5 separate regions of the Homo sapiens genome follow, and all the other regions are linked to region 3. The links come from fine-mapping of genetic effects on gene expression. A gene starts in region 3. Each other region holds a variant in brackets. All regions are shown on one strand. Distances are between the middles of the regions.

Region 1 (5,137 bases), 42 kb before region 3:
GAATCAGCAAACCGTGGTCTGTCACGGGGCACAGCCCCACAGGCTACGAATGGATTTTACCCTTCTCAATGGCTTGGTTGGGGGGATGGGAAATGGGCCCTCATGGGACTTGGGGAAAAGTAAATGAAACAATTGTTGTTGTTTTTTAATGGCACAGAGTAAGTGTTCAATAAATATTTGCTGTTGCTTCAAAAAATATTTTGTGGCATGCAAAAATTATATGAAAATCAAATTTCAGCATCCATAAATAAAGTTTCCTTGGAACACAGCCACTCTGGTTCATTTCTTTGGTGTCTGTGGCTGCTTTCCTGTTAAAAAGGCAGAGCTGAGTGGTTGCCAACAGAGACTATTTTGCCTATAGAATAACAAACATGTACAATCTGGCCCTTTTCAGAACAAGAGTCTGACTCCAGGCTTACAGCCTTAGAGTGGTGCCTGACCCATAGCAAATGTTTCATAAACGATGGCTAGTGTTGTTATTGCAGCAGAGAGTAAGCACGGCTCACTGGAGAGCCTAGAGTTCCCTGCCTCCCATTCCAGTTTCCCTGACTTTCTGGCCTCATTCACAACAGCTGCAACCCCAGCTCCCTCTCCTCCTCCAGCCTCATTCTCCAAGACCTCCAGGTAAACTCCTTTAAGATGCTAAAAACTACAAAGTCTGATACCACACTAGGGATTCAGGGTGTATGGGGAACAGGCATGTTTCTGCGTTGTTGGTAGGAGTGTACACTGATACAACCTCTAAGGAGGCACCTGGCAAGAACTTTTGAAATGCTAAAAGCACATAACTTTGACCCAGGAATTACACTTCTAGAAACTAAGAGGTCTATAAACACAATTGTGAAATGATGTCTGCAAGGTTATTCTGTAGCCACATCATTTTAAATTATAAAACATTAGAAGCAACCTAATTGTCCCTCATCTGGGGACTGTTAAATAAATTACATACAGCCGTACAATTGAATGCCAGGCAACCCTTTACAAATGGGGATGCTCTTTATGTACTGATAGGGAAAGATTGCCAAGAAGAAACAGAAAAGCAAGCAAGGAAAATGTGTTTCCGCCATAGCCTGCTACTGTTTGTAGAGGGGAAGAAAAGGGGAGATGACATGTTTGCATTTATGTCATGAAAAAACTCTAGAAAGATCTACAAGAAACTGGGAACATCAATTGCTTGCGAGGAGGGGACATGGGTGGCTGGGGACAAGAGTGAGAGGAGATACCATTGTTTCTGTGCCACTGGAATTTTGAACCATGTAGATATATTATTGTGTCAATATTTTCTTACCTTTCTAAAAAGGAAGAGAATGTAACAAGAACAAAAACTCACCGGAGCCTAGGTGTCACCCCTTCTGTGATGGGGTCACACCTCATCTCCTTCTCTGCCCCCTTCCCATTGGGCCTCTATGTTCCCACACAAACATGTACCTTTTTTCCTAACAAAAAGTAAATATAAAATACTAAAACACCCACAATATTTTTTAAAAATACTAGGAGTGGCCGGACATGGTGGCTCATGCCTGTAATCCCAGCACTTTGCAAGGCCGAGGCAGGCGGATCACCTGAGGTCAGGAGTTCAAGACCAGCCTGGTCAACATGGTGAAACTCCGTCTCTACAAAAATACAAAAATTAGCCAGGCATAATGGCGGGTGCCTGTAATCCTAGCTACTCAGGAGGCTGAGGTGGGAGAATCACTTGAACCCAGGAGGCAGAGTTTGCAGTGAGCCAAGATGGCACCACTGCACTCCAGCCTGAGAGACAGAGTGAGACTTCGTCTCAAAAAAAAAAAAAAAAAACAGGAGTAATATGATTCCCAAACCCAGTTGTCTGTATATTATAATAAAATACAAATTAAAAAGGACACATACTTGCAATGTCCAGGAACCCTACGTTAAATTTCCCAAAACACTGACTCTAGCATGAGTGTAGTGATTTGTTTCTTACAGGCATCCCCGCTGGTCTAAGCCTTGGGGACCCTGCCTTACTTGCCTTGTAGCCCCATCACCTAACACATAGCACATGACTCGGGCTCAGCAAATATTTCTGGAAAGATAAAGGCCAATCCAAGCCCCTGGA[G/C]GGACGCCTTCTCCCGCCAGCAAAAAGAGTTAGTACCTCCTGGGGCCCACAGCGTTCAGCAAACCCCCAGGAGCATCCACACAGAGAAGAATCCTGTGGGGTGGTGCCGGCAGCCTCCACGCAGCCCGAAGGAAGCTGCAGCTGGTTCACCGTGTCCTATGAGCTGTTCACTCTCCAAAACATCAGCAATTGACCCACCATGAATCCACTCAGGCTGCCATAACAAGACGCCACAGACTGGATGGCTTCAACAACAGACATTTATTTTCTCACAGTCCTGGAGGCTGGAGGCCCAAGATCAAGGTGTCAGTGGTACTGGTTTCTCCTAAGGCCTCTCTGTGGTGTGCAGGTGGTCACGTTCTCACTGTGTCCTCACACGCCTTTCCTCTGTGTGTGCCCATCCTGGTGTCTTCCCCTTCTCATAAGGACGCCAGTCCTCTTACATTGGGGCCCCACCCTAACAGCTTCTTTTTAGCTTCATCACCTCTCTAAAGGCCTCATCTTTGAATATGGTTACATTATGAGGTACTGAGGTTTGGGACCTCAACATATAAATTTGTTGGGGGGTGGGGGTGGTGGCTCACACCTGTAATCCCAGCACTTTGAGAGGCCAAGGCGGGGCAGATCACTTGAGGTCAGATGTACGAGACCAGCCTGGCCAACACAGTGAAACCCTGTCTCTACTAAAAATGCAAAAATTAGCTGGGCGTGGTGGCACCCGCATGTGGCCTCAGCTACTGGAGAGGCTGAGGCAGGAAAATTGCTTCAGCCCAGGAGGCAGGGGTTGCAGTGAGTCGAGATTGTGCCATTGCACTCCAGCCTGGGCGTCAGAGCGAGCCTCCATGTCAAAAAAAAAAAAAGGGAGGGGGAAATAATTCAACCCATAATGCACACAAAATGAATCTGGTCATGCTGTTGCCTTCCAGAAACTTTTCTTGGTTACTGTTATGGACTGAATGTCTGTGTCCTCCAAAATTCATATGGTGAAGCCCTAATCCCCAAAGTGATATTGTTTGAAGGTAGGGCTTTTAGGAGGTAATTAGGTTTACATGAGGTCATGAGGGTGGGGCCCCAGGGTGGGATTAGTGCCCTTACATGAAGAGAGACCACATCTCCACATCTCTCTCTCTCTCTCTCCTTTTCTCTCCCACTCTCTCTCCCTCTCTCCCCAACATGTTGAGGATGTCTGCAAGCCAGAAGAAGAGCCCTAAGGAGAGCCAGGAGAGAATCTGCCCACATCTTGATCTTGGACTTCCAGCTTCCAGAACTGTGAGAAATAAATTTCTGTTGTTCAAGCTGCCTAGTCCATGGTATTTTGTTTTAGCAGCCCGGGCTGACCAATACCGTCAACACAGTACTTTTTGTTGTTGTTTTGTTTTTGTTTCTGCTTGTTTGTTATCTAGCACTAACATTTTAAGATGGCAAGGGTAAAATGGGATTTTCCACATTTTCAATCCTCTCCAACCCTTTTGGAAAGCAATTTTGGCAATATTGTATTTATTATATTGACTCAGTCATGCCACTTCTGAGAATCTATTTTAAATAAATAAACACCCATGAAAAATAAGAAACCTAAGATTATCACTGTATTATTTTTAATTTAAAACTAGAAAAAAAACTCTAAATGTCTAGTAGTAGGGGAATGGTTAACAGCATTCACTTAGTGGAATGTTATGTTGCCATTTGAAGAGATCAGGTAATGTTTATGAAGCATCTCCTCTGTGCCAGGCTCTGTGCTAAACAGGATAGATGCAGAGATGAAGAACATGGTGCTTGCTTTCAAAGAATTTACATTTTAGTAGAAACAGACACAAAACACTCATTTCATAATTCAAATATTTAGTAAGCACCTACTATGTGCCAGGCATTATTCTAGGTACTGGGCATCAAGCAGGAACAAAACAACATCCCCATTCTCATGGAGTAGATAATAATCAAACAGGCAGGGCACAGTGGCTCACGTCTGTAATCCCTGCACTTTGGGAGCAAGAGGCAGGAGGATCATATGAGTCCAGGAGTTCAAGACCAGCCTGGGCAACACGGTGGGACCCCATCTCTACAAAAAATTCAAAAATTAGCCAGGTGTGGTGGCATGTGCATGTGGTCACAGCTACTTGACAGCTGGGGCAGGAGGATTGCTTGAGCCCAGGAAGTTGAGGCTGCAGTGAGCTGTGTTTACACCACTGCACTCCAGGCTGGGTGGCAGAGGGAGACCCAGTGTCAAAAAATAAATAATTTTTTTAAAAAGATAATAATCAAATAATTAATGTCAGGTGCAAATCTGTGCTGTGAAGACACATAAGGCAGAGTGGGGGAAAGAGAAGGGGCCCCAGCAGCAAGTAGGGTGGTATTTTAGATGGAGCATTCAGAGGTGACATCTGCAAGTGATCTGAAAGGAGCGGGGAGCAAGCCATGCGAATGTCTGAAGGGAAGGGCTCTCGGGCAGAGGACCAGCGAGAGCAGAGGCCTGGAAGCATGGCCAGCGTGGCCAGGTAGAAAGATGGGCCGTTTACCCTGGCCATGAGGGAGGCCCCCAGTGGGCAGTGCAGGGAGCCAGGGGAAGGCCTGGCTGTGGAGCATGATGTTTGAGGCAGGATGGTAGCAGAGGTGGCGGCGGAGGTGGGTGGCTGAGGCCTTTGGACGGGATTCACGCCTTGGAGAGTCCCTGAAGACATTTACTCATTCTTTGAGACCGAGCACAAGCGTCATGCTCCTGTGAGCTCATCCCTGACTCTCTTGACGGCCAGTCTACCCTTCTCCCGGGTTCCCACATCAACGTGTAGTCTATTTCATTATTGCTGCTTTGTATTGGATTCGAGCCATTCAAGCCCTTCACACATCTAACGCATGCACGTTCACACACATCTCAGAGCATGGACTCTCACTGCAGATCCCGCATATTTGATATATCTAATGTACAGGACTTAGCATGGAAAATGCTACTGAAATGAATTATTGAATACATAAACTCACATCCCCCAACTGCACTGTGATTTCATAGTAAAAGAGCAGGACTCTGTCTGGAACTCCTGCTCTATTCAGCAGTGCCTGGAACAGGTG
Region 2 (5,088 bases), 20 kb after region 3:
TGGGAATGCACACATTTTCATTCCCAATAGGTTTTTATTTTTGCCTCCTCTCTTTTGTTTTCATTTTGTCTCTACACTTTGATATTATATACTGATAGATATATGGATTAAAAAAATCATTTCTGGCCAGGTGCAGTGGCTCACGCCCATAATTCCAGCCCTTTGGGAGGCCAAGGTGGGCGGATCATGAGGTCAGGAGATCGCGACCATCCTGGCTAACATGGTGAAACCCCATCTCTACTAAAAATACAAAAGAATTAGCCGGGCGTGGTGACGGGCTCCTGCAGTCCCAGCCACTGGGGAGGCTGAGGCAGGAGAATGGCATGAACCCGGGAGGCGGAGCTTGCAGTGAGCCGAGATCGCACCACTGCACTCCAGTCTGGGCAACAGAGAGAGACTCTGTCTCAGAAAAAAAATAAAAATAAAAATAAAAATAATCATTTCTGTACCTGTGCTTCCAATATAATATCCACTAGTCACATGTGGCTGGTTAAATAAAATTAGCCGGGCACAGTGGCTCGTGCCTGTAACCCCAACCCTTTGGGAGGCCAAGACAGCCGGATCACTTGAGGTCAGGAGTTCAAGACCAGCCTGACCAACATGATGAAACCCTGTCTCTACTAAAAATACAAAATTAGCCGGGTGTGGTGGCACATGACTGTAATCCCAGATACTCAGGAGGCTGAGGCAGAAGAATCACTTGAAACTGGGAGGCAGAGGTTGCAAGGTTGCAGTGAGCCAAGATTGCACCACTCTACTCCAGCCTGGGTGACAGAGTGAGAGTCTGTCTCAAAATAAATAAATAAAATTTAAAACTCAGTTCCTCAATCATACTAGCTAACATTTCAAGTGCTCAAAAGCCACATGTGCCTAGTGGCCACTGTATTAAACAGTGCAGAGCAGAACATTTCTATCATCTTGGGAAGTTCTACTGGATGCACTACACCCTTATAAGTCTTTTCTATTTGATAAAATACTAAGGTTGTATTAAAATCTCCTATTATAACAGTGAATCTTTCTCGCAATTCTGTCAGTTTTGTTTTATATATTTTTAGGCTATGTAATTAGGTGCATACAGGTTTAGAAATTTTGTATCTAGCTGGTAAATTGAGTCTTTTACCATTACAAAAGTAGTAGGAGCCTTCTATCTCTAAAGATACTAAATATATTTGTCAACTTTATTTTCATTAGTATTTGCTTGGCATATTTTTTCATGACCTTTTATATTCAACTGTTTCTATATCCTTATCTTTTAGTTGTATCTCTCTCTCTCTCTCTTTTTTTTTTTTTTTTTTTTTTTTTTGAGACGGAGTCTCACTCTGTCACCCAGGCTGGAGTGCAGTGGCGCAATCTTGGCTCACTGCAACCTTTGCCTCCCAGGTTCAAGTGATTTTCCTGCCTCAGCAACCTCCGCCTCCTGGGTTCACGCCAGTCTCCTGCCTCAGCCTCCCAAGAAGCTGGGACTACAGGCACCCACCATCACATCTGGCTAATTTTTTGTATTTCTAGTAGAGACGGAATTTCACTGTGTTAGCCAGGATGGTCTCAATTTCCTGACCTCATGATCCACCCAACTTTGCCTCCCAAAGTGCTGGGATTACAGGCGTGAGCCACCACGCCCAGCCGGTTGTAACTCTTTTAAACCATCTAGTTGGATTTTTCCCCCATCCTGACAATCTATGCCTTTTAACTTGAACATTTCATTCATTTACATTTATTGTAATTGTTCATTAGCTTTGATTTATTTTTACCTTTTTTGTGCTATTTATCCCATCTTTCTTCTCTACTTTCTTGTCTTCTTTTACATTAATTTTTTCTTATTCCATTATCCCCCTTTCTGATCTGTAAGTTATACGACCAATTTCGAGTTGTTTAGCAAGTATCCTAGAAATTATGGGAAACATACATAGAAGGCCCTTTAACAAAGCCCTTTAAACACTTTAGTTCTGATCATCTCTTCCTCATATTTACATCAATGCCATCATGTATTTTAATTGTTTTTAACACAACAAGAAATTGTTACGTTTTATTAAGTCACTATTTGTTTAGATTTAACCATTTCCATGCATCATCACATCTTCTCATATTTTCAGACTTTCTATTTGGGAAAATTTTCATTTTACCTGAGGTATATCTTTTAGAATTTCCTTTTCTAAGAGTGTATTGGTAGCAAACTGTCATTTTTAATTTGTCTAAAAATGTCTTCTTTACATCTTTGTTTCTGAAACATTTTTGCTGCATATAAAACTATGGGACCACAGTTACTTTCTTTCAGCCTATTGACAATATCATTCTACTTTTGCCTAGCTTCCATGGTTGCTGTTGAGAAGCTGGCCCCCATTCATTTTGCTGTACTTCATTTCAAGGTAGTCTTTTTTTTTTTTGGTTGCTTTTAAGAATTCCCTCTGCCTTAGGCCGGGTGCGGTGGCTCATGCAGTGGTAATCCCAGCACTTTGGGAGGCCGAGGCAGGTGGATCACCTGAGGTCAGGAGTTCAGAGACCAGCCCAGCCAACACGGTGAAACCCCATCTCTACTAAAAATACAAAATTAGCCAGGCATGGTGACGCATGCCTGTAATCCCAGCTACTCCGGAGGCTGAGGCAGGAGAATCGCTTAGAACCTGGGAGGCAGAGGTTTCAGGCAGCCAAGATTGCTCCACTGCACTCCAGCCAGAGCAAGAGAGCGAGACTCTCTCAAAAAAAAAAAAAAAA[AAAG/G]AAAAGAAAAGAAAAAGAAGAAAAGAAAGAAAAGAAACGAAACTATGGCCAGGCACGGTGGCTCACGCCTGTAATCTCAGTGCCAAGGTTTAACAACTTACTTTGCAATCATCTGAAGGTCAGACCTTACTTTCAGTTCACCCTTACACAGAATGTTACCCTTTGAACTCTCTGCTTCATGGGATTGGGTTAGGGAGCTTCTTAGACTTTCCATCTTAGGCTCTGAGATGTGTGTTCCATTTTGCAGGTCCCTTGAATCATAAACACCAAAGATGAATGTTTGGCCAATGCCCTCAAAGTTGGCTTCAGAACTCTATCACTTTCGAGTTTCCTCTTTCGCTTAAGTTTTGGGGCTCCAAGTATTCTTTACTAAAATACATTTCAAATGCATTTATGTGCAGGGTTTTCCAGCATTTTCAGTTGTTTCATCAGGGCACCTACTTGAGCTTACTGTTAAATGACAGACACCTGAAATGTCTGAGAAGAGAAACAGGCTCAAGAACAATTTGAATAAGTTCTACAACGACAGATTCATGTTATTTAAGGCATAGTTTGGGATTGTGGTGGACTTTTTTTTTTTTTTTTTTTTTGAGACAGAGTCTTGCTCTGTCACCCAGGCTGGAGTGCAATAGCACGATCTCAGCTCACTGCAACCTCCACCTCCCAGGTTCAAGCGATTATTCTGCCTCAGCCTCCCGAGTAGCTGGGTCTACAGGCACCCGCCACCACGCCCGGCTAATTTTTGTATTTTTAGTAGAGACCGGGTTTCACCACATTGGCCAGACTAGTCTTGAACTCCTGACCTCGTGATCCGCCCTCCTCGGCCTCCTAAAGTGCTGGGATTACAGGCATGAGCCACTGCGCCTGGCCTGTGGTGGACCTTTAAGGCTTCTTCCTAACAAGGTCTACTGACGACATGTAGGTAATTGTGGAGTGACCTGGCAGGAAGAACTGTGGCAGAATCCTCTCGCCGGACTCTAACACTAACTAGATCTTGTGGAAAAGCCAAGTCTTTGACTGGCTCAGCCTAGCTTATAGGAGTCAGATGAGGTTAATATTGTAAACATTTGTGTCTTGTCTTCCCAATTCAACTGTTAACTTCCTTGAAAGCAAATACTGTGTTCTCTAAGTCTCCCAATCTCTCCGTTCTTAGTTCTTAACGCACTTTCTACAAGAATCAAATATAGCGCACCCTGCTCATGGTCAAATTTTCCCCACAGAATTTCCTTAGCCCTCCATTCTCACAAAGATCTAACATGATTCTCGAAGTGTTTCTAGACCAAGGAACACTTCATTAAAAGTCAATTCAATTCCAGCTGCCCCTTCCGTTGCAAACCCTCTGGTGTTGTTAAATTAACCACTACTTTGAAACAGTATGGGAACAGTATGAGAATGTCGGAGCTGGAAGGAAACTTAAAGCCTTGGAGATCATCTAGCAACTACTCCAACACTCTCGATTTACAGTTAAGAAAACGAAAGAGACCCAGAGAAGCGAACACAGTTGCCTAAAATCACCCAAATGGACAGCTGAAAGCTTCGTGACTCCACAAATAGGATTTTCCTCACACCAAACTCCGTATCTTGACATTCCCAGAATGGGGATGGTCGGTGGGCTGGGAGGGGGGTGTTGGGGGGGGGGTGAAGGAGAGAGTTTGGGCAGCTCTACAAACAAAATGCAGCAACTGCACTGTAGATAACATCCGTCCCCAAGGAGAAGCAGCCCAGGCTGACTTCAACCTGTGGCTGCAACCCCCAGACAGAAATCTGCAGCACTGGAAAAACCGACAACACATCGGACCGAAGAGGAGGTGGTCGCAGAGAGGCAAGTCCTGGGGTCTCCCGGGCAGCGGGAGAGCTCACTCGTAGCGACGGAGACCGTTTCCAATCTGGAAACACTCCAACCTGGGAACGGGCTCTTTTGGCACGAAAGAGAAAATGTGTGGGCAGGGTCACAAATCCACCAACCTAAAGCAAGCGTCAGAGAAGTTTCTGGGCAAGGGCGCACGGCGCCGAGGCTCCGACCCCGCTGCAGAAGGAAGCGGAGGGAAAAAAGGGCAGAGCACTGGGGTCGCGAAGAGGAGGGTCCGCGTTCACCCGCGCCAACGGCAGCCCCGGGAAACCAAGACCCCGGCGGCGTCCAAACCGCGAAGCCCCGCCCCCGGCAGGGGACTCCGCCATCCCCAACGCGCCCTCGAGCCAGCGCGCCGGTGCCTCTTTACCCGAGCAGGCGCCGACTCCGCCATGGCTCCAGTCGCCCCTCAACACCCAGACCCCGCCTCGGAGCCCCCGTGCTGCGTTCCTGTCCGCTCGGCGCCCCAGAGCCTGTTGGAAGCCGCCGCCGCCGCCGCCGTGTTGATGCCAGGTGCATTCTGG
Region 3 (5,000 bases):
CTTCTCCCCCACTTCCAGCCTTCTCCCCCACTTCCAGCCTTCTCCCCTACTTCCAGGCTTCTCCCCGACAATACACTTTCCACAGAGTAATTGTTAATCTTTTTTTTTTTTTTTTTTTTGAGACGGAGTCTTGCTCTGTCGCCCAGGCTGGGGTACAGTGGCGCAATCTCGGCTCACTGCAACCTCCACCTCCCAAGTTCAAGCGATTCTCCTGCCTCAGCCTCCCAAGTAGCTGGGACTACAGACGCCCGCCACCACACCCAGCTGATTTTTATATTTTCAGTAGAGACAGGCTTTCACCATATTGGCCAGGCTGGTCTCAAACTCCTGACCTTGTGATCCGCCCGCCTCAGCCTCCCAAAGTGCTGGGATTACAGGCGTGAGTCAGTGAGCCACTGCTCCCGGCCTGGTAATCTTTTAAAAACACAAATAGATCATTTCAGTACCCTGCTTAAAACTCTTCAATAGCTTCCCAGTGTACCTGGCATAAGATCTAGACTTCTTCATGGCCCAGCCGACCTCTCTTGACCTTGAGCCATCCAGTTCCTGTCGTGCTCCAGCCATGCCAGCCTCCTGTGGATTCCGAGGACCCACCCGGCCCTCCTCCAACTTCACATCAGCTCTCAATATGCATCCTCTGTATGCCTGAGTCTCTCTCGTTTTTAAGATTCTAGCATAGACAACGCATCCTAGAGATTTTCACTGCCCCTCCCCCTTAGCACTAGTAATCTATAATTGCTTCATTCATTCAATAACAATTACTGAACACCTATCATAGTAAATGTACAGTGAAGATGAAGAAAAAACTGATGTGGTTCTTCCTTCTCCAGGAGAAAAATTCTGTATAGGAATACTTATAAACAACAACAGTGTGATAGGATGGGCTAACAAGAGTCCAGGGCAAATCTGTCCCTTTTGGGGAGTTTTTTGGGATCTCAAGTGCTGCAAGAAGGGAGGAGCAGGTGGACAGGAGTGATCTGAAAGGTAGTGAAGCAGTGAGCCCCAGGCTAGGGGGAGTGGATGATGTCACCTTCTAGGGCCCCCTCTTCCCAGGGAACAGGACTATAAACCTGCAGAATCCTCAACGCTTTTTCTCTCCCTTGCACTCAGGGAACCCAAAAAGAAGCTCAGCACACTCACTAAGAGGAGGGAGAGGAAGTTATACTTTAATAAAAGTATCCAGAAAAATCAAGGTTTCAAAACCTTCACTGAGGTGTATTAATAATAGTAGGTATCATCTATTGAGCCTTTACAAGCGTTTTCCAGTATGTCAAAAATGGCCAAAGGATTATAATCTCCCAATTGGACATACTGCACTATATCAAACCAAGATTCTAAAATCTGCTAAACTGGCCTAACTTATATAGATGAAGATGCCAAAAAAACTGATGTGATTCTTCCTTCTCCAGGAGAAAAATTCTGTATAGGAATACTTATAGTGTATTCTTATGAATAAACTTATTCATATAGATATGTATCTGGACAGATAGATAGATAGATATAAATGAGACAGGCACCTGCGCCTGTAATCCCAGCTACTTGGGATTGGGAGGCTGAGGCAGGAGAATACCTTGAACCCGGGAGGCAGAGGCAGAGGTTGCAGTGAGATGAGATCCCGCCACTACACTCCACCCTGGGTGAGAGTGAGACTGTGTCTAAAAAAAAAATATATATATATATATATATACACACACACACACACACACACACACACACACACACACACGTATATATATATACTTTTTTAATTAAAAAATTTTAAAATGGCCGGGCGCGGTAGCTCTCGTCTGTAATCCCAGCACTTTGGGAGGCCGGGGCGGGCAGATCACGAGGTCAGGGGTTCGAGACCAGCCTGGCCAACATAGTGAAACCCAGTCTCTACCAAAAATAGAAAAATTAGCCAGGCGTGGTAGCAGGCGCCTGTAGTCCCAGCTACTTGGGAGGCTGAGGCAGGAGAATCCCTTGAAGCCGGGAGGCGGAGCTTGCAGTGAGCCGAGATCGTGCCACTGCACTCCATCCAGCATGCGCAACAGAGCGAGACTCCCTCTCAAAAAAAAAAATTAAATAAAATCTGCTACAGTAATCTTTTTTAAAAAAATCTACTATCTCTCTTGTAAACGACACAATCTTTCTCTTTGGCAAAAGTAGAATATGAGGCGTTTTAAAGTGTCTAATTCCAAAATCCCTGCCCCGGCGTGAGGCTCCCGCCTCTAATAGATGCGTGACCCTGGGCCTGTCCCTTCCCATCTCAGCCTCCGCTACTGTCCCGTGGGGCTGGCGGCCCCTGCCCGCCCAGCCTGCTGTAGGGGGGGCCGCGAGGCCTCAAATGGGACAATACTCCTAAGGCGCGGCCTCCTCGTCGCCGAGCGTGACTCTGGGGCCCGGCCTGGCTGAGGCCGCAGATGGGCCGGATCGTCAGCCGCTGACGTCGGGGCCCCGCCCGCCGGGCCTGGCATTTGGGCCGCCCGGTCAATGCCTTCGACGCGGGCTGGGCGATGGGCCGGGGGCAACGAGCGCGGAGGCTGCGCGCAAGGCCCTCTCACCCCGCGGCCTCGCGCGGCCAGAGTCCCTCGCGCGGGCTCACGCGGCGGCGGCCTGGGCCTTCCGGGCGTCCGCGGGGCCGAGGGCGCTTACCCGGGCAGGCGCCGCTTCGGCCATGGCTGCCCGCGTCCCTCGCTGGGTTGCAGTCCCTGGACCCGGCCTGTCGGGCCCGGGGCGGCGCGGCAGCGACGGCGGAAGCGGAGCGGGACCCGCCTAACCTGAGAGCTACTGCCGGGCGGCAGCGAACTGCGTCCCGAGCCACGTGCCCCGCTGGCCCTTTAAAAAAGAGCTGCGCTCGGCGGCCGAGCTTGAGGACGCGCACAGCGCCCCCTGCAGCCCGTAGGACCGCACGCCCGCGGCCGCCGCCCCGCGCCCTCCCGAGGCCTTCAGCGCCCGCGGCGTCCGGGACCCAGGCGCGGCCACCCACCCTCACCCGGGGCGCGGGAGTTGACGCCAGGGCGGGCGTGCCACGGCCTCCAGCGGGGCTACGTCAGGCGTAAGCCACTCCCGGGCCAGCGCGGCGCCCAACCTCTCTCTGCGTCCCACGCGGGAGCCGGGAGGGCTGCGGGAAGGAACCGCGCTGGAAAGTGCGAAACCTCGCGAGGGAAAGCTGCGTGGGGAACGGGGTCGGCCCTCGCCGGGGCTCCAGTCCGGACCGAGACTCTGTTGCAGCGCCTCCCACGCACCACAGAACTGAGTTGGGGAAAGTAAAAAGGATACGTGTGTACCCAGGGAGAAGCCAGGGAAACTTACATGAACGTTTTTAAAGTCTCTTTTAAATTTGACAGAACAAACGTGAAGATGGTAGGATTTTTTTTTTTTTTTTCCTAAGCCTGCCCTCCCCTCCTGAGGACTCTGGGGTCCCTTCCTCCTCCCGGGGCCCGCCTGGTGAAAGTCCTCAGCCACCCACGAGGACCCTTCTGTAGCTTTGGTCCAGGCTGAGATCACAGCAAGTGTGAATCAGTCCATCCCTCATTTAGGCCCTGAGGCATCTTGAATAAACCGCAGGACCCATTTTCCTCGGCCTGTGCTGAGGCATATTGAACTAAATGTGCTGTATGCAGTTGAAGCTTTGTTTTCTGTCTTTTCTGCATTTCCCATTCATCTCACAGTCTTTGTCCAACAAGCTGGCAAACTCTTCCCGCTAGAAATCTGCAGTTTTGTTTCTTTCTGTGTTTGGGTTTGTTTGGGGTTTTTTGGTTTTGGTTTTGTTTTTTCTTTTTTGGGGGGGGGGGGTGAGGGTGAGAAGTTATTTTCACAAATATTTGAGCCAAGCAAAAGCGTGGTCAACTATCAGAAAAAACACAAACTGATATCCTAAGTAAGGTGAACCCCAAAATTTGCGGAAAGGTTAGGACGTGTTACTTTAAGGTAACAAATCAAATAAATATTTGGCATTATTCATTTTGGAAATTCTTGTTGAACTATCCCAATCTAAAACACAAACTGCAAGTATGCACTAAAGACATTAAGAGCATCCCTAGGATCTTATCAGGGATCAGTCCAATCTATTCAGGATTATAAAATACCAGTAAATGGTGACGTTATAGAATAACAGTTAAGGTCCAATGCAAACAGAAAGGGTCAGGAAAATGGGCCAGGAGCCGTGGCTCATGCCTGTAATCCCAGCAGTTTGGGAGGCTGAGGCGGATGGATCACCTGAGGTCAGGAGTTCGAGACCAGCCTGGCCAACATGATGAAACCCCATCTCTACTAATACAAAAAATTAGCTGGGTGTGGTGGTGAGGTACTCTGGAGGCTGAGGCAGGATAATCGCTTGAACCCGGGAAGCAGAGGTTGCAGTAAGCCGAGATCATGCCATTGCACTCCAGCCTGGGCAACAAGAGCAAAACCCCATCTCAAAAAAAAAAAAAAAGAAAAAGAAAGAAAGAAAGGGTCAGGAAAATGGGCTGGAGACAAAAATGCTAGGATTTAATGAGCTCTGTTGAGGAAAGAGTGCTATAATGTTTGACAGCTAGTCTTCGTTTTTTAGAAAAAAAGTTTCTCTAAGTCAGTGGTACTCAAACTTCAGTGTGCATCATGTTCACTGAGGGTTCTTGTTAAAAATACAGGATGCTAGGCACAAACCTCAACATTTCTAGGTCTGAAACAGGAGGGGATGAAAGTGATGCGAATTTGCAATTCTAACTAGTTCCCAAGAAATGCTGATTCTATTGGTCTGGTGATCACAGTTCGAAAACCTTGGCACTGTTTATCAGGGTCCCACAGCTACCTCCCATTCCCATGCTCAGATTTTATAAATATATTTAATAAACGAACACTTTGCACCATAATGTGGTTTCTGAGCAGACCAGCCGGGGTGTCAAGCCAGCTCTGATATAAATTAAAATTACATGGTGGCTTTTTTTTTTTAAGACGGAGTTTCGCTCTTGTTGCCCAAGATGAAGTGCAATGGCACGATCTCGGCTCACTGCAACCTCCACCTCCCAGGTTCAAGA
Region 4 (5,118 bases), 99 kb after region 3:
TTAATTGGTCATATTTTGGCTTGAAACCAGAATTTGAAGTGTGTGAAGACAGAGTGAGAATGAGGTCACTGGAGGAAAAGGGACTGTTCTGAGCCCTCTTGGAGCTGCTGTCACTTCATTCAAAAGGTGTCAACTCAGCCTCACCCATGGAGATGAGAGACTCGTAGTTGCCCTTCATGATATTCTTGTAAAGTTCCTTTTGCCATTCTTCTAATTTTTCCCACTCTGGAGTGGAAAAGTAGATGGAGACATCATCAAATGCCACAGGCACCTAAAATTACAATCACATGGGTTAGTCCCTTCCATTATAATTCAGTCATTCAATAAATCTCTTTCCAATTAGTTCCTTTTATTTTTTTTACATTTTCAAAGGGTGGTCAATAAATATTCTAAATATCTCTGAAATGGTTTCTTTTAATGCTTCACTTGTCATTAGAAAATCCTAAAATCCTAGTACTCATGCAATACAGCACGAGTCCCTTAAATAAAGCTGGTACCTTTTCTTGAGGCACATTCGAGTATTTTGGTAAGCAGTAATAAAATATCTAAATACCATGTATGTTAAAACTTCAAGCTTTATTGAGTCTTTGATTTCACCTCTTTTAAAATGCCTTTTCTCTAAGAACATCACTCTCCAGGAGATCCAAATTCCTCTATTTGTTTTCTTTGTGTTGTTTCTAGTTCCTCTAGTCTTTTGCCAAGTACAGAGTTCCCTTTGATGCTGTTCATCGTGCACATGAGGAGGAAAGGATAATACCATGGCTGATGACTGAGAGCAAACAGGATTGATTTTGGAGGCATGTTAGGAACCAAAATTAAACTTCAAAATTCATTATGTCTTCTGTGTGTATCCTTTAGTCTTTTCTGAAGCTTTGTACATTCTTCAAATGGAACATTTTGTCTATTTAAAACCCAATTTTCTGTTTCCATTTCTTCTCTACCTGCCTCCAAGATTTACACCTTGTCCTGCCATCTCTTCAATTGTTTTCACGGCAAGATTTCCTGTTTTTCTGGGCAACTGCAGCTCACTGCAATTTCTCTTTAGCTTGACTGTACATTTCCCTGAGATACATTCATGAAGCATATGCTTTTCTTCTAACTGCTGTGTCTGTTCTTTTTCCAATGTCTTTTTGACTTCTAGTTAGACTTTCTCAGCTTGATTTCTTATATTTCAGCATTCCTGTTTTAATGTCTCCATCGTTTCTTTCAGCATTCGGTTCGAACTCTGCAAGTGAGGTAACTTGGATCTGAAAACTACTGATTTACTATTCCAGGTCAAAATTTTCGTTTTTTTCTTCCTCTGCATTTTCTTTCTTTCTTTTCTTTTTTTTTTTTAGAGACAGAGTCTCGCTGTACACCCAGGCTGGAGTGCAGTGGCGCGATCTCGTCTCACTGCAACCTCTGCCTCCCGAGTTCAAGCAATTCTCCTGCCTCAGCCTCCCAAGTAGCCAGGATTACGGGCACCCGCCACCACACACCGCTAATTCTTGTATTTTTAGTAGAAATGGGGTTTCACCACGTTGGTCAGGCTGGTCTCGAGTTCCTGACCTCGTGATCCACCTGCCTCAGCCTCCCAAAGTGCTGGGATTACAGGTGTGAGCCACCGTGCCCGGCCTCCCACAATTTCTTTTCACACTGATGCTTTTCACATTGCTTGCAGACATCATGATCCACTTTCATTTTCTATCTGCTAACTTGTTTTCAAATTCTAGCTTTTCATCCTGTAATGCCAGAAGTCTTTTACAACCTTCTTCCTTGGCATCTGGTGCCTTACATATTAATATATGATCTTTTTTTACTAAGGGCACTTTGTGGTGTTCAATAGCTGGTCTCAGAATTTCATTGTCTGACAGTAAACCATCCAGTTCACTTTGAATCTTTTTCCTTTCCCTTTCTAGCTCACTCTTGCTGCCTCTAGTTTCATGGCTGTTATTTCTAGTATGCTTGAAAGTTTCGTTCTTTGACTTTAGTGCTCAGTGTATTTCTTTCTTTCTCTTTTTTTATTTTTATTTTTATTTTTTTGAGACGGAGTCTTGCTCTGTCACCCAGGCTGGAGTGCAGTGGTGCGATCTTGGCTCACTGAAAGCTCTGCCTCCCGGGTTCACGCCCTTCTCCTGCCTCAGCCTCCCAAGTAGCTGGGACTACAGGCGCCCACCACCACGCCCGGCTAATTTTTTGTATTTTTAGTAGAGATGGGGTTTCACCGTGTTAGCCAGGATGGTCTCGATCTCCTGACCTTGTGATCTGCCCGCCTCGGCCTCCCAAAGTGCTGGGATTACAGGCTCAAGCCACTGCGCCCGGCCCTCTTTCTTTTTTTAAGATGGAGTCTTGCTCCATCACCCAGGCTGGAGTGCAGTGACGCTATCTCGGCTCACTGCAACCTCTGTCTCCTGGGTTCAAGCAATCCTCCTGCCTCAGCCTCCCAAGTAGCTGGGATTACAGGTGCACACCATCACGCCTGGCTCATTTTTGTATTTTTAGTAGACACGGGGTTTCACCATATTGGTCAGGTGGGGCTCGACTCCTGACCTCAAATGATTCACCTACCTCAGCCTCCCAAAGTGCTGGGATTACAGGCGTGAGCCACCGCCACCACTCCCAGCCTGGTCAGGGTATTTCTTTCTTGTTCAGTTTTATGTAATCTTTAATGATTAAAAAGGTACTTTGGCCAGGCGCAGTGGCTCCTAGAACTTTGGAAGGCCAAGGCGGGTGGATCACCCAAGGTCAGCAGTTTGAGGCCAGCCTGACCAACATGGCGAAACCCTGTCTCTACTAAAAACACAAAAATTAGCTGGGCTTGGCCGGGCGCGGTGGCTCACCTGAGGTCGGGAGTTCAAGACCAGCCTGACCAATATGGAGAAACCCCGTCTCTACTAAAAATACAAAATTAGCCAGGGGCGTGGTGGCACAGGCCTGTAGTCCCAACTACCTGGGAGGCTGAGGCAGGAGAATC[G/T]CTTGAACTCGGGAGGCGGAGGTTGCGGTGAGCCGAGATCACACCATTGTACTTCAGCCTGCACGACAAGGGCAAAACTCCATCTCAAAAAAAAAAAAAAAAAATTAGCTGGGCATGATGGCGCATGCCTGTAATCCCAGCTACTCAAGAGGCTGAGGCAGGAGAATCGCTTGAACCTGGGAGGCGGAGGTTCCAGTGAGCTGAGATCACGCCACTGCACTCCAGCCTGGGCGACAGGAGTGAAACTCTGTCTGAAAAAAACAAACAAACAAACAAACAAAACAGGTATTTTGTTCATTGTTTGATTGTGGCTCTTTTTCCGAGCATTTAACCTACAGTTTACGTGACATTTTTGGCCTACTGGGACCTGACTGTAACTGCATCTCAGCCAACTGTCACACCTGTATTCTTAGGACGTTTTCTAACTGAGCACCAGAATTCTCTTTTTCAGCCGTTAAATCTGCTACTTCAGCCTCTGAATGAATATATATATATTTTTTGAGACAGACTCTCGCTCTGTTGCCCAGGCTGGAGTGCAATGGCACGATCTCAGCTCACTGCAACCTCCGCCGCCCCCCTCCCCCCACCCAGGGGTTTGCCATGTTGGCCAGGCTAGTCTCAAACTCCTGACCTCAGGCGATCTGCCCACCTCGGCCTCCCAAAGTGCTGGGAGTACAGGCGTGAACCACTGTGCCCAGCCAGCCTATGAATTATTTTAATTTCTGAAACAAATGGACTTTTTCTCAAACAAGTTCCTCTACTCATTTGTTGCCTCTTGTGGGATCAACACTAAGCAGCTGGTTATATAGTTCTACATCTTTCCCCAGTCTTGCAATCTATAATTCAGGCCAGGTGCACTGGCTCATGCCTGTAATCTCAGCACTTTGGGAGGCCAAGGCAGGAGCATCACTTGAGGTTAGGAGTTCGAAACCAGCCTGGACAACATAGTGAGATCCTGTCTGTATAAAGAAATTTAAAAATTAGCCAGCTGTGGGGCCAGGCACAGTGTCTCACACCTGTAATCCCAGCACTTTGAGAGGCCGAGGCGGGCGGATCACGAGGTCAGGAGATCGAGACCATCCTGGCTAACATGGTGAAACCCTGTCTCTACTAAAAATATAAAAAAATTAGCCAGGCGTGGTGGCAGGCGCCTGTAGTCCCAGCTACTCGGGAGGCTGCGGCAGGAGAATGGCGTGAACCCAGGAGGCGAAGGTTACAGTGAGCCGAGACTGCGCCACTGCACTCCAGCCTGGGCGACAGAGCGAGACTCCGACTCAAAAAAAAAAATTAACCAGCTGTGGTAATGCACACCTGTAGTCCCAGCCACTCGGGAGGCTGAGTCAAGAGTCTCACTTGAGCCTTAAGGCTGCAGTGAGCCAAGATAGCACCACTGCACTCCAGCCCAGGCGAGAGCAAGACCCTGTCTTGAAAAATATATAAATAAGTAAAAATAAAAATAAATCTCTAATTCAAATTTTAGAGTTTTTTTCTAAACTACATGTAAATTCTTCTTCCTAGTGTTTCAGATTCTATTTAAGAAATGTATGTTTATAGCAAAGCTTGCAGCTCTATACTTTTCCACTTCTTCATCCCAATTGCAAAAACACTGGAGTTTCTAATTCTTGCTGTATTTGGGCTTTTAACAATTCCCCTTTTTTTTTTTTTTTGGAGTTAATTACCTGCAGCTTCATTTCTTCTAAGTCCTTAGCTTTTCTACTAATTCCCCTCTTAGTTCTTCAAGCAGGAGCTGAAGTTTTTCCTGGTATGTTTGCTTTTCATTTAATAGGCACTTGAGTACTTTTTGCGACTTTATGTACTCATCCTGCCACCTTGTATGCTTGTATGTTAGGCATTCAGAATCTGGTAACTAGTTGTTTTTGGTTTTGGTTTTGTTTTGTTTTGCTTGTTTTTAAGACAGGGTCTCACTCTGTCATCCAAACTGGGGTGCAGTGATGTGATCATTGCTCACTATAGCCTCGACCTCCTGAGCTCAGGTCATCCTCCGATTTCAGCTTCCTGAGTAGCTGGGACGAGTCAGGAAGTGACATGCCACTATGGCGAGTCAATCTTTAGAAACATAATTTTTGTAGGGATGGGTCTGGCTATGTTGCCCAGGCTGGTGTCCTACACCTGGCCTCAAGCAATCCTCCAACCTCAGCCTCCCA
Region 5 (5,137 bases), 27 kb before region 3:
AGTAAGAACATATTCGTGTAAGAATCCATTTGCATAATCAAAACATAGACACTTTCAATGGCTAGAGGCGGGTCACCTTCTGTTCAGAGGGATCTCTGAGCCGTGATTTTCAAACTAACGGCACCAGAATCACGGGAGGAAAGTGTTGAAAGTCCAGTGCCCAGACCCTGCCCGTACCTAATGAATGAGCAGCCCGTTTACACTGCTTCTAGAATTCTGGCAGCAACAGCCTGCCTGTGGAAACATCCAACAGATAAAGCAGTCATGCACCCACACTGTCTGGGGCCTGCACGCAAAGGGTTTAGAAGCAGCTTTTAGGAGTGAAGCCCAGTCCTTGGGGGTAAACAAAGCTCTCTCCTGGAGAAATCTGGAAAAGTTTACAGAGAATGGAAAACAAGAAGTAACTGCTAGAATGGCAAGGACTACCCAGACCGTAGGGCAACCCTAATCCCCTGAGCAGGTCTCATTCCTCCACCCACCACGCTTCCTTGAGCTGCCTTCAGGTGCAAGCCCAGCCTCATGGCAGAGCCGTGCCTGCAGCTCTTTGGCCAGGCCCTGCCTGCTGCTTTGCATCCCCCTAGGAGCTGCTCAGCCCTGGGGACTGTGGCACCGGCCACAGCCTCTGAACATGCCCCAGTCCTGCCCACACCTGCTGCAGGGGGCCAGCCCAAGACGGGGGTGGCTGCAGTGCCTGGGCTCAGCTCCCCTCCCTGCACCACAGGGGAGGAGCTGTTGGCCAGGCTGCTGCTGTAATAGCGCTCAGTGACACCACAAGAGCCACGTTCAGTGACACCACAAGAGCCACGCTCAGTGACACCACAAGAGCCACGCTCTGCCCAGCTGGCCTCTCGCTCAGGGCTCCCCAGCTTGGGCTATGTGACCTGCATCCTGCCACACCCCACCCCTTACTCAACCCTGCTCTCTCTCTGGTGCCCCTGCCCCCTGCAGGTGCCTGGAAATGCCACTTTTAGCCTTGGACCTACATGCCAGCCACTCAGTACCCCTGTCAACCCCCACCTTCTTCCCCACTCTGGGCTCACTGTGACTTAATTTACCTACTCAAAGAGTCTGCTTCACAGGGGAGCCTTCCTCCCCAAATCTAAGAATCTAGAAAGCAAGCAGCAGTATCTTGGCATGATCCACTGTGTTCTGAGCAACCAGCTCCAGGGTTCCTGTCCTTCAACTAGAATGGTCCCATTGTCCCCATGTTATATGTTTCTGGTTGTCACTGGAATAAAGGGTTCTCACCTTTAAAAAAAAAAAAAAACTGCATTCTGATCCAATGCTATTATTTGAAAAATGGAGGAAACTGAGCTTCTATTCTGGTTCACTGTTCATTTAGTAATTATATATTATTTATAATCTCAGTACATGCCAGGCACTGTGTAAGGTGCTAGAGGAGGGGGATAACACAGCAAGACTCAGTCCCTTCACCCAAGGAGAGTGAAGCCTGGAGAGGAAGCAGGGATTAGGCTGCAAAGTGAGGAGGACATGCACGCAGGCACCAAGGGCCCTGGGAGCAGATGCAGTGTCAGGGCAGGTCTCACGGAGGCCGCCAGCCCGTCGCTCCTCCCGGAACCCTGCATGCACCAAGACGGCCTGTCTCAGGTTCCTGGTATCTGCTATGCCCTCTGCCCTTCCCCTCAAGCCTCCAGACTGGTCTCAGGCCAAGCGATGGCTCCAAAGGGACATGGAGTATGGGAAATGGCCCAGGCCCTCTCTGGGTGTCAGAACACCCGGGTCTGGCCCTGACCACCAGCTGTGAGGCCCAGCAGTTCACTTCCCCCCACCTCTGCCTCTCTTTCTCCAAGGGGGCCTTCTGACACCAGATGCCCTTACCAGATGCAGGTGGAGAGGCCCAGGCCCACACCCTGAGGGACTCACCAGTGCCCGGGCTCTGGCCCCTCTCCGCACTGGGCAGGCTGCAGTTGCCTGCCTGTCTCCTTTCTCCACTGGTGCCAGATCTGGCTTGGTGGTGGCCTGGCCTGTGGGGAGGAAAAGGGCAGTGGCAGGGCTGTCCTCTGCAGGCCTGGAAAGGGAGGGTGTTCTGCTAGGCTTGGAGCAGCCTCTTCAAGGCGTGTGTTGAGGGGCATGGAGAGTAGGGTGGGCAAGGCCTCTCAGTTTTCGTGGGCTAGAAGTGAGTGCCATGAGGCCAAGAGGAAGGGTTCCCATCCACTGCCCACATAGACAAGTCACCTAGTCCAGACAGATGAGGAAACTGAGGCCCAAGAGTGGGTCTGGCCATCCATGGCAGTCAGGCTCAGGCTTCCTGCTGCCCTTCCTTCCACGTGCTTCTCCTTCCTCGCCTGAGGCCGGACAGCCTCCTCACCCTGCCTCCCACAGCACACTGGGACCCTTTTCTGAAGGAGGAACCTCTGCAGCCAGGCAAAGAGAGGGAAGGCACTGTGTTCTGGGCCTCAGCCTCCCAACAAGGGGAGAGACTGGACAAAAAGCCAACTGCTCACCTGCCCAAAGCAGTGAGAATTCCAGGTTCACGCAGGAGAGCTTCGGAGTGGGGTAGCTACAAAAACCCAGGTCTGATCAAGTCTCACACGAAGACGCACACCTGCCTGAAGGAGCGAACTTCCCAGGCCTGGCCCTGATTTTCTGGACCTGGGGCATCCTTAAAAGCAGGCCTGGCCAAGCCTGGTGGCTCACTCCTGTAATCCCAGCACTTTAGGAGACCGAGACGGGAGGATCGCCTGAGGTTGGGAGTTCGCGGCCAGCCTGACCAACATAGAGAAACCCCGTCTCTACTAAAAATATAAAATGAGCCGGGTGTGGTGGCCCATGCCTGTAGTCCCAGCTACTCAGGAAACTGAGGCAGGAGAATCACTTGAACCCGGGAGGCGGAGGGTGTGGTGACTGAGATCACGCCATTGCACTCCAGCCTGGGAAACAAGAGCAAAACTCCGTCTCAAAAAAAAAAAAAAAAAA[AG/G]CAGGCCTACAATTCATCCTTCTTTGCTCAGCAGGAATCTCCTGAGAACTCAGTGTGCAGAGTGCAGCGTGGGAGTCCTAGAGATGCAGATGTAAACCAGGGGAGGCCCCAGCTCCCCAGGAGCAGATAGGCTGGTGAGCCACAGGTGTGCACGCAGGAGCTGCCTCTGGCACCACGCGAAGGGCAGGACAGCGAGGAGCAGATTCCAGTTTATTTACTCCAAGAAATCTGGAACAAGTCACATAACCTCTGCATTTCATTACATAAAACTTCAAAATGAGAATGACAGATACCTTCTACCTGCCTGAAGACAGAGGGCTGAAGAAATGATCTCCACATGCTTCCTGCTCTGAGATTCAGGAGTCTCATGTGATTGAATAAAGGAGTAAAACCAAGGTGTGGAGGCCCCCAGAGGCCAGCCTCTCACCCAGGAAGCTCAGGGTGTCGCAGCTCCCCTTCACAACACATTTGCAGAACTCCTTCTATGAGTCCTCCAGGCCGCCACCCTGCTGCTCTGAGAAATACCCGACCGTGTCTTCAGGAGTCACAGGCACCTGGAAGTACAAGTTGCCTGCACCCACCATGAATAACAACCATTTCACGGAGCAGCCAAAACCAACTCGTCCCCTCTCCCTTCCCCCGAAGCAGAGGGCATCGCAGGCCAAACTACTAAGCAAATGCAAACTCAACTCCATCACACTGCCTTCAGCTAAAGGGCAGAACCAGTGACTAATGGGATCTAGGATCGGGGCTCCTGGGTTCTCCCCTCTCCCAGGCACACATATCTCCTACTTGTGCCAGTCCTCACTCTCAGAGACCATGTACAACCACTGCTGCACAACCATATCTCTCCCAACAAACCCCATTCCATCTTCCAAAGCAGACATTTTTCTGTGTCACAATTTTCTTCTGACATTTTTCAAGCCCTTTAAAGTCAACTAGTGACTGCCTTGGACGCCCAGAGGTCAGGCTTCAGCAGCCAAGGGTATGCTGCTGTGGCGACGCTATGCATATGGCCACCCTACAGAGTCCAGGCAGGGCCTCTCCTCCTACACCCAGCTCCTGTACCTTGGGGGCCTCCCCCTTGCTGCCCGGGGGCAACTGCAGGATCCAGAAGTTCCTGTTGCACAGCAGGTTCTCCACGTTCCCCAGCCACCTCTGCAGCAGCCCGTACTCCTGCAGCAGGGTCCCCAGCACGGCCCACTTGCCTCCAGCTGGTTCCCGAACTCCACAGCCACCTTCTCGCAGTCAGCCAGCTTCTTCTTGGCTGTCCACATGCATCCCTCCAGGCTCTGTAGCCAGGCAGCCTGGGGTTCCATCTTCTTCTCCACCACCTGAACAGCAGCCACGATAGCCGGAAGGGAGATCTCTGCAGATCAGATCTGGGCCTCTCCCTGGAGGTCAGTCCGCAATGCCAGTCCTGCAACCAGACACAAGTTCGCAAGTCAGCCACCAGAAGGAGAGCAGCCCAGAGCCATTCCCAAATACAGGAAGGTCAGGATTCTCCGGAATGGGGGAGACGTCTTCTGAGTGCCAGGCGGCCTCACTGGTCAGACCCCCAAACAGACCCCACCTAATAGTCAAAGACAGCAGACACTGGACCGCACAAAGCCCCCACGAGAAGAATCCTGAACCAAGAGCCGGGGCAACGGAAAATGACATAACTAACATTACCATCATAAATGAACAGAGAGTGGATCCCAGCTCTACCACTCACTGGCTCTATTTACTCAGCCAATTACTCAACCAACTAGGGAACACGGCCAGCAGCAGGAGCCAAGAAATGGTGAGAAGCCCAAGTCCAGAACACCTGCCAGGGGACCTGGGGTCCAGTGCACACACACCCAGGCAGCAATCTGACTCCTCACCTTCTTCTAGAACAAGCCCACACCCCTTAGTGGGCTCAAGGGGAGAAAGGCCTGTTGTTCTGCCTTGGTGATTTCTAAGGCCCATCCACCCTGACATCTACTGGTGTGACTTCCTGCCCCGCCTGATACCACATCCCCATGATCCAGGTGCCTTGTCAACCAGCCCCAGGGTGGTCTCCACCCTCCTAGCTGCCAGGCAACAGGGGCCAGAGAAAGTTGAAAGCAGAAAAGGAAAGAACAAAGAAACATTACAAGGAATACCCTGTTCACAGGAGGTGGAAAATATATTGTGTATTGCTAGAAATAAAATTTAAAATCCAGGAATGCCTCA

Which allele goes with the higher level. Positions count from the first base shown, and alleles are read on the strand shown. Sizes are in standard deviations (SD) of each study's normalised expression. Not every link is listed here.
For the expression in skeletal muscle of the gene that starts at base 2,796 in region 3, G is the low allele of the variant in region 2 and AAAG is the other (moderate effect, 0.52 SD a copy in FUSION).
With allele T in place of G in region 4, the expression in tibial artery of the gene that starts at base 2,796 in region 3 is lower (small effect, 0.37 SD a copy in GTEx).
With allele G in place of AG in region 5, the expression in B cells of the gene that starts at base 2,796 in region 3 is higher (moderate effect, 0.63 SD a copy in Fairfax 2012).

Evidence for each region. PIP is the estimated chance that this variant, and not a neighbour inherited with it, causes the effect.
Region 1: its variant is fine-mapped to the expression of ZNF783 in whole blood (GTEx, PIP 0.99).
Region 2: its variant is fine-mapped to the expression of ZNF783 in skeletal muscle (FUSION, PIP 0.93).
Region 4: its variant is fine-mapped to the expression of ZNF783 in tibial artery (GTEx, PIP 0.99).
Region 5: its variant is fine-mapped to the expression of ZNF783 in B cells (Fairfax 2012, PIP 0.95). The same link has a PIP of 0.9 or more in monocytes.

What each region holds. Positions count from the first base shown.
Region 1 is chr7:149,301,868-149,307,004 of GRCh38, reverse strand. No RefSeq gene overlaps it. Among named protein-coding and RNA genes, the nearest start is that of TRC-GCA1-1, 5.8 kb to the left of the region's middle. The variant G/C (reference allele first, on the strand shown) is at 2,078.
Region 2 is chr7:149,239,649-149,244,736 of GRCh38, reverse strand. It overlaps ZNF212 (zinc finger protein 212), which reads right to left and starts at 5,086. Exons shown (of 5, transcript NM_012256.4): 1 at 4,935-5,086. The coding sequence starts at 4,958. RefSeq lists an enhancer at 5,025-5,088. The variant AAAG/G (reference allele first, on the strand shown) is at 2,713.
Region 3 is chr7:149,259,992-149,264,991 of GRCh38, reverse strand. ZNF783 (zinc finger protein 783) reads right to left here and starts at 2,796. Exons shown (of 6, transcript NM_001195220.2): 1 at 2,635-2,796. The coding sequence starts at 2,658. LOC124901769 (a long non-coding RNA gene) reads left to right here and starts at 2,651. Exons shown (of 2, transcript XR_007060582.1): 1 at 2,651-3,345. RefSeq lists a silencer at 2,329-3,198.
Region 4 is chr7:149,161,311-149,166,428 of GRCh38, reverse strand. It overlaps ZNF398 (zinc finger protein 398), which reads right to left. Exons shown (of 6, transcript NM_170686.3): 3 at 145-271. It also overlaps the pseudogene LOC100420549. Among named protein-coding and RNA genes, the nearest start is that of ZNF398, 16 kb to the right of the region's middle. RefSeq lists an enhancer at 4,829-4,978. The variant G/T (reference allele first, on the strand shown) is at 2,954.
Region 5 is chr7:149,286,786-149,291,922 of GRCh38, reverse strand. It overlaps the pseudogene LOC155060. Among named protein-coding and RNA genes, the nearest start is that of TRC-GCA1-1, 21 kb to the left of the region's middle. The variant AG/G (reference allele first, on the strand shown) is at 2,938.